Regions from separate parts of the Homo sapiens genome. Here region 2 is linked to region 1. Evidence: fine-mapped expression QTL. A gene starts in region 1. The other region holds a variant in brackets. All regions are shown on one strand. Distances are from middle to middle.

Region 1 (5,371 bases):
AAAAAAACCCTTCCCTGGTGGAACCTCTACCGACATCTCAGAAGGATGTCTCCAGAATAGACGTTGCACGGATGGGGGCTTGAGTAATTCAGTCCTGAGCTGGACAAGTCGGAGCGGTGCCACTTCTGGGCTCTGTGGTCTCAGGTATGTGGCTTAACCTCTCTGATCTCAGCATCATTCATTCAAATGACAAGACTCATACTAATCTTGCAAGGTACAGGTAGTAAAAATAGAGCTTAAGAATGTAGGCTCTCAGGTTCACTGGCAGGGACCGATCCCTTACAGACTGCCAGCACAGGTGGGTTACTCAGTGTCTCTGAGTCCTTTGCTTTATCTGTATGACTGGGGCAGTCTGAGTGCCCACATCGTAGGGCATGGCAAGGGTTATATGCAGTAATATACAAGAAAGTGTGTATTAATAATACTTCTAGATGCTTCTGACATGCCTGGCTTCCCCTAACTCACCTCAACAACCTCATGAAGTAGACATAAGAGCTCCACTTTATAGATAAGGAGGCTGACGCACGGAAGGTTTGCGTGTCTTGCCTACTGTTTAGCAAGCACCTGACATCAGGAAGGTTCAGCGAGGGTCTGTTATTAAAGGTTCGAGTAGCCCAGGAATGTGACTATGCTTAGCGAGCATCCAAGCATCTAGGTCTCAGGAGGAACTCCACCAGTCTCGCTTAATCCCTCTTGGTCGCTTCCCCATTTGGGGAGGCCTTTGCTAAGGGGACGGAGGAGCATTGCGTACTTGCAATCACAGTACTCCTCCATGTTCGTTGCGTGCTTGCCTCAGCCATCCTTGCTGTGTGACCTCCAGCCAGTTACTCCCCCTCTCTGGGCCCGCAGGCTTTTATGTGCAGAATGAAGGGGCCTCCAGCCGCAGTGGTTCATGCCTGTAATCCCAGCACTTTGCGAGGCAGAGGCAGGCAGATCATCTGAGGTCAGGAGTTCGAGACCAGCCTGGCCAATGAAACCCTGTATCTACTAAAAATACAAAAATTAGCTAGGCAAGGTGGCATGTACCTGTAGTCCCAGCTACTCGGGAGGCTGAGGCAGGAGAATCGCTTGAACCCGGGAGGCGGAGGCTGCAGTAAGCCGAGATTGCGCCATTGCACTCCAGCCTGGACAACAGAGCGAGACTCCATCTCAAAAAGAAAAAAACAAAAAAAAATGACGGGGCCTCTAATGCTGTCTCCATTTCAGACCTATATGAGGTGCTTGACTTAGTGTGAGTGTTTTAGATTTAGCCACTTCACATATTTAAAAAGTCCTTTTCATAATATTTCTCACCTTCAGATCCTGCAACCATTTCTTATGCTATTCATTCTAGCCAAAGCCATTTCCAAAGCATCTATAAGCTTACATTTTCAGATGCACTCCACTCCAATCAAGAGAAAAACTCGGCAGTGGAACGGAAATCAAAGTTCCTCTCAATTTCAGAGCCGGTTGGATTCCGGTGGATAGTGGAGAGTGAATCGTAACCTATTTCACACTCTTGCTCCCTACACAACATTCTGTTGCTCTGAATGCATTACTTTGCTCACAGGGAATGGCCAGAGGAGGATGAGGAGCCTGCAGAGAGAAGAGTATTTTGAAATCTGGGGAGCCCTTTGCAAGCTTCCTCATTTTCCCAGTGCAAAAACCAAGACCCAGCGAGCGGAAGTAACTTGTCCAAGGTCACACAGCAAATCCGAATCCAACCCAGCACTCTGTCCCCCAGCCTGGGGCTCCTTCCAGAACCTGAAAACTGCCCTTTCTGCATTCACTGAATAAACCCAATTTTGCCATCTACGGCTCTCCAAACAGCTGGCAAACAGCTCCTTCTGGAGCACGGGAAAGGAATTCACTCAAACCAGCACTTTTGCCAAGGATGTCTAACAGCGTCAACTTCCCCCTGGCCCCCGCCCACCCTACAGCAAGCAGTAACTCTTCCCCTCCAGTTTAACTCACCTTCTTGTCTCAGGGAGCCAGTTTCCAGCTGTTTCTCTGCCAGGCAAGGGGAGCCCATCTCTTGGTGCCCAGGGAAGGGACAGGTTTCTGGTGGAGATGAAGGGGAAGAAAAAAATCCCCAAAACAGCAGTTTCTAGCAGAGTCAGTTTCCAATCTTTCTTCCCGTGCCTCCTCCAGAAACCAGAAGTTCATTCATTCTGCATCTCTCTCTCCAGCAGCTGCAGGAGAGCCCTGGGGGATTGAGGTGGGATTTTTTTTTTTTTTTAAAGGACCCAGAAGTCCCTTTCCTTATGAGAGATGAGGGTCTGGGGGTTCTTGCTGGGAGGGAGCCAGGGCAGCTGTCCTGGTTGAGCAGCGGACTCTGCACTTCAAGTCCCACGGGGACAGCCAGTGTGGGGGGGTGTGGAATGGGAAGGGCTTAGAAATAATCTCTCCATCAGCCAGCAGCAGGAAGAAGCAGCAGCCGCTGCCACTCTGCCAACCGCCTAGGAGGCAAGGGGAGCTGTCCTCCCTCCTCTGGCATGGAGGAGCACAACTCGGGAGGAGCAGAGGGCAACTTGGGGCCGGAGGCATCTGCAGCTACCTGTCCCAGGCACCCCAGAGTCTCTCGGGGTATGCTGATGATGGTGACAGGCTCAAGTTGAAGCTGCAGGAGGAACTTTTTGCTGCTTTTAAGCAGCCCAGGCCTGGGACAGGTTCAGACAGAAGCCCAGGCTCTGAGCGCTGGGTGGGAGTCAGGGGGGCTGTGTTACAGAACAGCAATAGGAAGAGCTCCGAGCTTGGAATTCACACACATGCCTGGATCCTGGCTCCTATGTGAAAGGCTGGGTGACCTTGGCCAGGTGAGTTAGTGCTTCTGAGCCTCAATTGTCTTGTCTCTAAAACATGGGAATGAGAGAGGGTTCAGGGAAGGTCAGAACCATAAGTGCAAGCTCCTGTGCTGGTTGGATGGTTGGGTGGGTGAAAAGGAAGAGGCATCAGTCCAGGGCCTGGGTGTGAACTTGGACTCTGCACTGCCTGGCTGTGTGTTCTTGGTCAGTCACTTCCCCTCTCTGGGCCTTGGGTTTCTCAGTCAAATGAGGACAGTGAAACCAGCGATGGCTGCAATTGTAAAACCAGCATCTTGTAGTTGCTCACTACACGTTGACTGTTCTTCACTTTCTTAAGAGGTTTTGCAGCCCAGGCTCTTGGCTTCTGAATGTGTTATCTTCACTGCATTTGATAGTTGAGGCCCTGAGAAGAGGCTTGCTCAAGGTCATCTTGCTGGTTAGAACCATCACTTAGGCCGGGTGTGGTGGCTCACAGCTGTCATCCCAGAACTTTGGAGGCGGAGGCGGGCAGATCACAAGGTCAGGAGTTTGAGACCAGCCTGGCCAACGTACTGAAACCCTGTCTCTACTAAAAATACAAAAATTAGCTGGGCATGGTGGCGGGTGCCTGTAATCCCAGCTACTCGGGAGGCTGAGGCAGGAGAATTGCTTGAATCCGGGAGGCGGAGGTTGCAGTGAGCTGAGGTCGCGCCACTACACTCCAGCCTGGGTGACAAAGTGAGACTCTGTCTCAAAAAAAAAAAAAAAAAAAAAGAACCATCACTTAACAGACGCTTGAGTTTTGATGGGAGGATCCAGGAGTGAGGGAGATTAGAGGGTGAGCCTTCCACAGCTGCCTGCAAGGGGATGACAGGTGCTGCTGACCTAGGTGGGCTCTCTGTGGCCTTGGCAATGGGAACGAATCCAAGCAGAGAAGAGAACTGACTGAATGGAGGTCCATCTGGTATTGCGGTTTTCAAATGGTATTGCTTGAAGCCTTAGGGCTCTGCAGAAATGATTGAGGGGCCTGGCCTGGGGCAGTGACAACGGGGAGGATGAACCCCTGGACCTGCTACCTCAGCCATGGCAGCTGCACTCTGATCTGTCTCCATAAGACTGTAAGTGTAACCCCAATAAAGGCTGTGGCCCAGCATGGTCCAGTGTCCACACAGAGCCACTCAAAGAGATCCCAGAGCACCTGCCAGTAATGGAGAAGTTTCCTTCCCTCCTTCCACTGACTCCCGTGTTCCTCAGACCCCACAGCTGCTCCAATGGTGCTCTTAGAAGAGTCTTCAGAATTGTCTTTCCAGCTCATGATTCCTCCTCCTACCCCAGCTGTCTCCCCACCTCTCTCAGCTGTTTCTTATTTGTCTGGATTTAGCCTTTCTGGTTAAATCTCCCCTAACTTATCCCCATTCCTCTCAGTTCTCTCTGGATCCTGAGTATATGGGTTCAAATCAAGAATTTACCAATTCCCTGCTGGGTGACCTTGAGCAAATTTCTTAACCTCTCTGTGCCTTAAATTTTTTTGTCTGTGACCTGAAGATGACAGCATCTATCGATTTGTTGTGAGTTTTGAACAAATCAATTTACATTGATAAGGCTCTTAGAAGACTGCCTGTCACAAAAGTGAGTCCTATCTATTCAAATGCTTGCTATTATTATGATTATCTTTTTTTTTTTTTTTTTTTTTTTTGAGATGGAGTCTCGCTCTGTTGCCCAGGCTGGAGTGAAGTGGCAAGATCTTGGTTCACTGGAGCCTCCGTCTCCGGGTTCGAGCAATTCTTGATCCTCAGCCTCCTGAGTAGCTGGGATTACAGGCACCTGCCACCATACCCAGCTAATTTTTGTTTTTTTAGTAAAGACAGGGTTTCCCCATGTTGGCCAGGCTGGTCTTGATCTCCTGGCTTCAAGTGATCCACCTGCCTCTGCCTCCCAAAGTGCTGGGATTACAGGTGTGAGCTACCGTGCCCGGCTATGATTACCATCTTAGCAATTTTTTTTCCCCAAATTACCCAAGAAAGATTTAGGTAAATACAGGAGTCTGCTGTTCAAAAACTTTTCTAAAAGAAGGCTTGATTTACTGACCTAGTGCAGGTCCCTCATTTTACCTATAGAGGAACTCAGACCCAGTGAAGGGGAGAGCCCTGCCTGAGCCCTCCCAGCCAGTGGATGGCACTGCCAGGCTCAGTGTGGACTCACAGTCCAGTGCTCTTTCCACAGCTCAGTGCCTTCTGTCAATACACTTTGCCCAGGTTGTAGGACTTTTCCCTCAGCCTGGTGTTCAGTCCCGTCAGCCCTTTCCCCAGGGCATCCACTAAGCCCTTCTTCAGGTCTTTGTGAAGTCCCAGCCACCTTTTGGCTTAGTGCTACTGTCTTCTTGTACCCAGTGTCCCTCCCGGGTATGGACACTTGACCTCAGCTAATCAGGGCCAGTAACCCATCTCCCATCCTCCTGGCGTCCTGGAAGCCTGGAACTCGAGGCATACGTAGAAATGCCCCACCCAGATGTCTTCTGCCACATTTTTCTGATCAAGGGATGAGCCATAGTGACTACGTGTGAGCTTCTTATGGCTGCAGTAATAAATAACACCAATGTAGAAGCTTTA
Region 2 (5,371 bases), 23 kb before region 1:
GGAGAGAGATGATGTATGCTCTGAGCCTTGGGGACTTGTTCATCTGCAAGGGGGACATGCTGTCATGCTGTCCTCCTCAGAGATGGTCTGGATGGCTGGCACATACCTGGCCTGCTGTCACATTCTATCTGCCTGCTGGAGTGGGGGCAGGCACATTAATTTCATTTTTTATTTGAATGTCGTTAGGCCAGGCTGGCACTCCCCCAGTCCCCCTTTCCTCCCCTCTCTCAATCTCCACTACCCCGCGAGCATGTCCTGGGGTCACTTCCCCAATACTCCTGGGCTCACCTCCTAAATAAACGACTCGTAGGACATGGCACTCCCAGACACAATGCCCTGAGAGGGACACAGCCTCACTTATGTAATGTCCTGGCCAGGAATGCATGGCCTCAAAGCACCAGGAGACAGCGGACAAACCCAAAATGAGCGTCCTTGTGTGCATGATATATTTGACTCATAATTTCAATGCCATCTAAGTCAAAAGCTGGGGAAATGGTCCAGATTACAGGAGACTACAGAGATAGGATCCGTACATATATCTGGTGTATCCCATCCTAGGCTGGACCCTGTACTGGAGGAAAAAATGCTACAAAGGATATTGTTAGGTCAGCCGACAAAATTGGAACTGACAGTAGATTAGATTAAAGTAGTGCATGGAAGTTAATTGTGCTGAAGCTGAGAACTGAACTGTGGTTCTGTAAGAATCTCCTTCTTCTAAGTATCTATACACCGATGTGTTTAGGGTCTCCTTGGGCTTTCCATCCTAAAATGAGGCAACTGGTTTACTTTAGAGCTTCCTACCCTTTTGCAGGGGCAGGGAGAGGAGTCAAGGATTCCTTTGAGAAGCTGATGAAATTGTTGGACACTTAACACTTCAAAGTGCACCTAAGCCCCAGAGGCTCATAGACCTCTGGAACCTCATGGAAACTCCCAGCTAAGCCTCCTTGGGCTGAGAGTCTTCTGCTAAGCCTTCTGGTCACCACATTCTAAAGTGACATCTAGGCTGGTCATGGTGGGCTCATACCTGTAATCTCAACACTTTGGGAGGTTGAGGCAGGAGGATTGTTTGAGCCCAGAAGTTTGAGGTCAGCCTGGGCAACATAGTGAGACCACATTTCTACAAAAAATAAAAAAATTAGCCAGGCACGGTGGTGCATACCTGTGGTCCCAGCTACTCAGGAGGCTGAGGCGGGAGGATTGCTTCAGCCCAGGAGGTCAAGTCTGCAGTGAGTTACGATTGCACCACTGCACTCCAGCCTGGGCAACAGAGCAAGATCCTGTCTCAAAAAAAAAAAAATCAATTAATCAAAAATAAAGGTGCACCTAGAAAGCTGAGGGCCATGATGTGGGGAACTTACTTTCAAATGGTTCAATAAACATATTATTAACAATACCATGTAGATATGACAAAAATATAGATGGAGCAGGCCAGGCGCGGTGGCTCATGCCTGTAATCCCAGTACTCTGGGAGGCCGAGGAGGGCAGATCACGAGGTCAGGAGATCGAGACCATCCTGGCTAACACGGTGAAACCCTGTCTCTACTAAAAATACAAAAAGTTAGCCGGGCGTGGTTGTGGGCACCTGTAGTCCCAGCTACTCGGGAGGCTGAGGCACGAGAATCACTTGAACCCGGGAGGCGGAGCTTGCAGTGAGCCGAGATGGCACCACTGCACTCTAGCCTGGGCAACAGAGCGAGACTCCCATCTCAAAAAAAAAAAAAAAGATGGAGCAAAGAAGAAAGCAGATGGACAAAATGCAAAAGCAAGCAAACAAAAAAAAGTGGTGTTGAGGTGTTTTATGCGCTATTTTTGTTCTTGCAACTTTTCTGTGGGTTTGACATATTATCCAAGTAAAATGTTAAAAAATCAATTGCTTGGTGACTAGTAATCTTTCATTAGGTGATCCCCAGGATTAGCATGTCACTGTGAGGAAGAGCAGGCAGGGAGTTTAATATGCTGCTGGGGAAAGGCAGGCCACTGAGTGTGTGTAGCCAGCTAGCCAGGTGCTTCCAGAATGAGGCCTCATGGTGGGTGAGGTGCCCTGATGTGGTGGGCGGGAAGTGGAAAGAGATCTCAGTGAACTTACATTCAAACTTGGACTACTTGCCAATTTTTGCCAAGGGAGCAATTTTGTGGATAGTCAAGGGACAGAGTCTGTTTTTCTTTCTCACCTCTCTCCGTGTTCTTGTCTGCCCCTCTCCGTAGTATCAACTGTGGCAATGAGCCCTACTTCCCAGAGTCATAGATTGTCCAAACTGGGAAGGGCTTTAATCCTCTCATCTAAACTTTCCCTGGGATAAATGAGAAAATGAAAGTCTGGTAAAACTGATTTGTGTAACTTTTGTGTAACACAAAGTACGTGGGACACCCGAAGACATCTGCTCAGGACAGCGTGGCAAAGTGTTGTTACCATCTCATCTTCAATCTTTTCTTTGAGGACTTGGACGCTGTTTTACATGAGCCTAAGAGCAGCAGCATGACAGAGTGTTCTGCTGGAAATTGAGATACTTGGATCTAACTAGATGAACTGGCTGTGTGGCCTTTGGGTTGGTGGCCCTCCCTCTCTGAGCCTTAATCTCTCCATCTTTTTTTTTTTTTTTTTTTGAGACTGGGTCTAACTCCATCGCCCAGGCTGGAGTGCAGTGCTGCCATCATAACTCACTGCAGCCTCGACCTCCCAGGCTCAGGTGATCCTCCCACCTCAGCCTCCTGAGTAGCTGGGACTACAGGCACGTGCCACCACAGCCTGCTAATGTTTGTATTTTTTGTGGAGACTTGCTTTTGCCATATTGCCCAGGCTGGTCTTGCGCTCCTTGGCTCAAGTGATCTGTCCACCTTGGCCTCCCACAGTGTTGCGATTACAGGCATGAGCCACTGTGCGGGGCTTCATCTCTCCATTTTAAAATGAGGGAGTTGATTTACTTAAGAATTTGTTGTCCTTCTGGAGGGGTCATTGATTCCCTTGAGAATCCGATGGAATCACTGGACACTTTGCACTGTGACATGCACGTCATCTACAGAGGTGCACAGGTCCCTCGTGGAAACTCCCTGCTCGGATTGACTGTCTTCCAATGAGACTTCCAGTTACCATATTCTAAAGTCCTAAAACCATCGAAACAGAGTCAACGGGTCCCCAGTACAGTCTTGCATACCTTTCATGCTATTGAAGAATTAACTCACCCTTCTCCGTCTCACTTCTTGGGCTCAACTCTGTCTGGCTAGGACACGCTGAGTCAAAGTTTCCCAGTTACCTCTGGCAACCACGTCGACAATACAACACGAAAATGGCTCGCCGTAAAGGGCCGTTTTCTCTTTGCCTTCAGCTGGAAGATGTCCACCTTTGGCTATAGTCATGCCCACTGGCCTCAGAGAAAACAAGAGCTTCTGGGTA[A/G]CATAAGGGACCTTTCAGCCAACAGGGGTGAAGAAACTGCCTGGTAACTTGCTTGTCACTTCCACCCCATTCAATCAGCACGAAGGAAAGGCAGTTCGGCAACGCTAGACTAAAACAATTTAGACCCGTCTCCTGGGACATTACCAGGGAGAAAAAATAGAGCGTTTAATTAAGCCCCACATGCGAGCAATCAATTCCAATTTTCCATGTCTAATTTAGCAGAGAATCTCAACTGGGTGAACATTAAGACACTATAGAATCTCATAATGGTGGTGGTGCTTCACCTAATTTTGATTTTAAATGTTTCTTTTAGTGCTGGCACACTTTGGTGAAGAGGTCTGGTAGGTGAAGCAGAGGAGAAGGGATATGCCTGGGTAGAAGCCAGTTACAGGGATGGGCAGAGCTGTCATTAAGAAGTTTTCACCAGGCATGCGCACAAAATATGTCTTCGATGAGAAGGCAGGGCAGATGTGGGGGCTGATGTGGGTCCCAGACCTTCCAGTGGCTGTTTAGGCTTTGTCTCTGGTTCCAGAATGAGCTTACCACTCAGTTCAAAGGGCTGGGCTGGACACTGACGGGAAGGAGAGGAGACTGGGGATTTGCACATTCTTTTCAGTGTCATTAATTGCAAATGTTTTGCCCCAGGAGGCAGAGCTCTGCCTGCTTTGCTGCTGGTCTTCTTCATCCGCAGGACAGTCCCTGAGCTTGCTTTGTGGAACCCAGGTCAGAAAACCACAGATCTAGTCCAACACCTGCCTGCAGCTAACTGAGGGGGAAGGGGCCTGCCCGAGGTCACACAGGGAGTGAAGACACTGGGTTTCAGCCAGCGCCCAAGCCAGTCAGTCCCCAGAAAGAGAGTAAGTGGGAGACTTTGTCCTTTTACTATTTTGCCTAAGCGTAGTTATTAAAATGTTAGTCAGGCTTGGGCACGGTGGCTCACGCCTGTAATCCCAGCACTTTGGGAGGCCGAGGCGGGCGGATCACGAGGTCAGGAGATGGAGACCATCCTGGCTAACATGGTGAAACCCCGTCTCTCCTAAAAATACAAAAAATTATCCAGGCGTGGTGGTGGCACCTGTAGTCACAGCTACTCAGGAGGCTGAGGCAGGAGAATGGCGTGAACCTGGGAGGCGGAGCTTGCAGTGAGCCGAGATTGAGCCACTGCACTCCAGCCTGGGTGACAGAGGGAGACTCTGTCTCAAAAAAAAAAAAAAAAAAAATGTTAGTCTGGGCCGGGTGCGGTGGCTCGTGCCTGTAATTCCAGCACTTTGGGAGGCCGAGGCAGGCGGATCACCTGACATCAGGAGTTCAAGACCAGCCTGTCCACATGGTGAAACCTTGTCTCTACTAAAAATATCAAATTAGCTGAGCATTTGATCTCCAAATAGCTGGGATTACAGGTGGTGGGTGCCTGTAATCCCCGCTATTTGGGAGGCTGAGGCAGGAGAATTGCTTGAACCCAGGAGGCGGAGGTTGCAGTGAGCTGGGATCAAGCCACTGCACTCCAGCCTGGCGGACAGAGAGAGACTCTGTCAATAAATAAATAAATAAATAAGTAATAAATAAAATGTTACTCTGGAACAGAAACACTTCTATGGCTACTGTCCAAGGTGCCTGTGACATGGAATTTCTACGCAACGCTTATGGGAATCTGCCTGTCACTTTGTGGAGTGGAGTGGCCATCCAGGCTGGGGATTTTATAGGGTGAAGGGGCTTTCCTTGTGTCATGGCCACTGAACCACTATGTCACCTGGTGACATGTCAGCTTGGGAAAGATTGGGGTCTAAAAGAATGGGGACATGTGCCTGTATAGTTGGGGGGACACCTGGAGGACTCCAAGGAAAGGCAGGCTCGCCAGGAGGCCAAGGCTCCCTGGACGCTAGGTGCTGGTGCAGGGTGCTTCCTGGGCCAGAGCCCTCTGCCACGCTGCTGTCTGGCATTGCCATCAGTGGAGGACTATGCCTGGCACACAGCGGGAAA

What was found.
Region 2: its variant is fine-mapped to the expression of KCNG4 in cerebral cortex (GTEx, PIP above 0.99).

What each region holds. Positions count from the first base shown.
Region 1 is chr16:84,237,717-84,243,087 of GRCh38, forward strand. It overlaps KCNG4 (potassium voltage-gated channel modifier subfamily G member 4), which reads right to left and starts at 2,296. Exons shown (of 3, transcript NM_172347.3): 1 at 1,954-2,296.
Region 2 is chr16:84,215,136-84,220,506 of GRCh38, forward strand. KCNG4 (potassium voltage-gated channel modifier subfamily G member 4) reads right to left here. Exons shown (of 3, transcript NM_172347.3): 3 at 3,522-5,371. Among named protein-coding and RNA genes, the nearest start is that of ADAD2-AS1, 21 kb to the left of the region's middle. The variant A/G (reference allele first, on the strand shown) is at 3,392.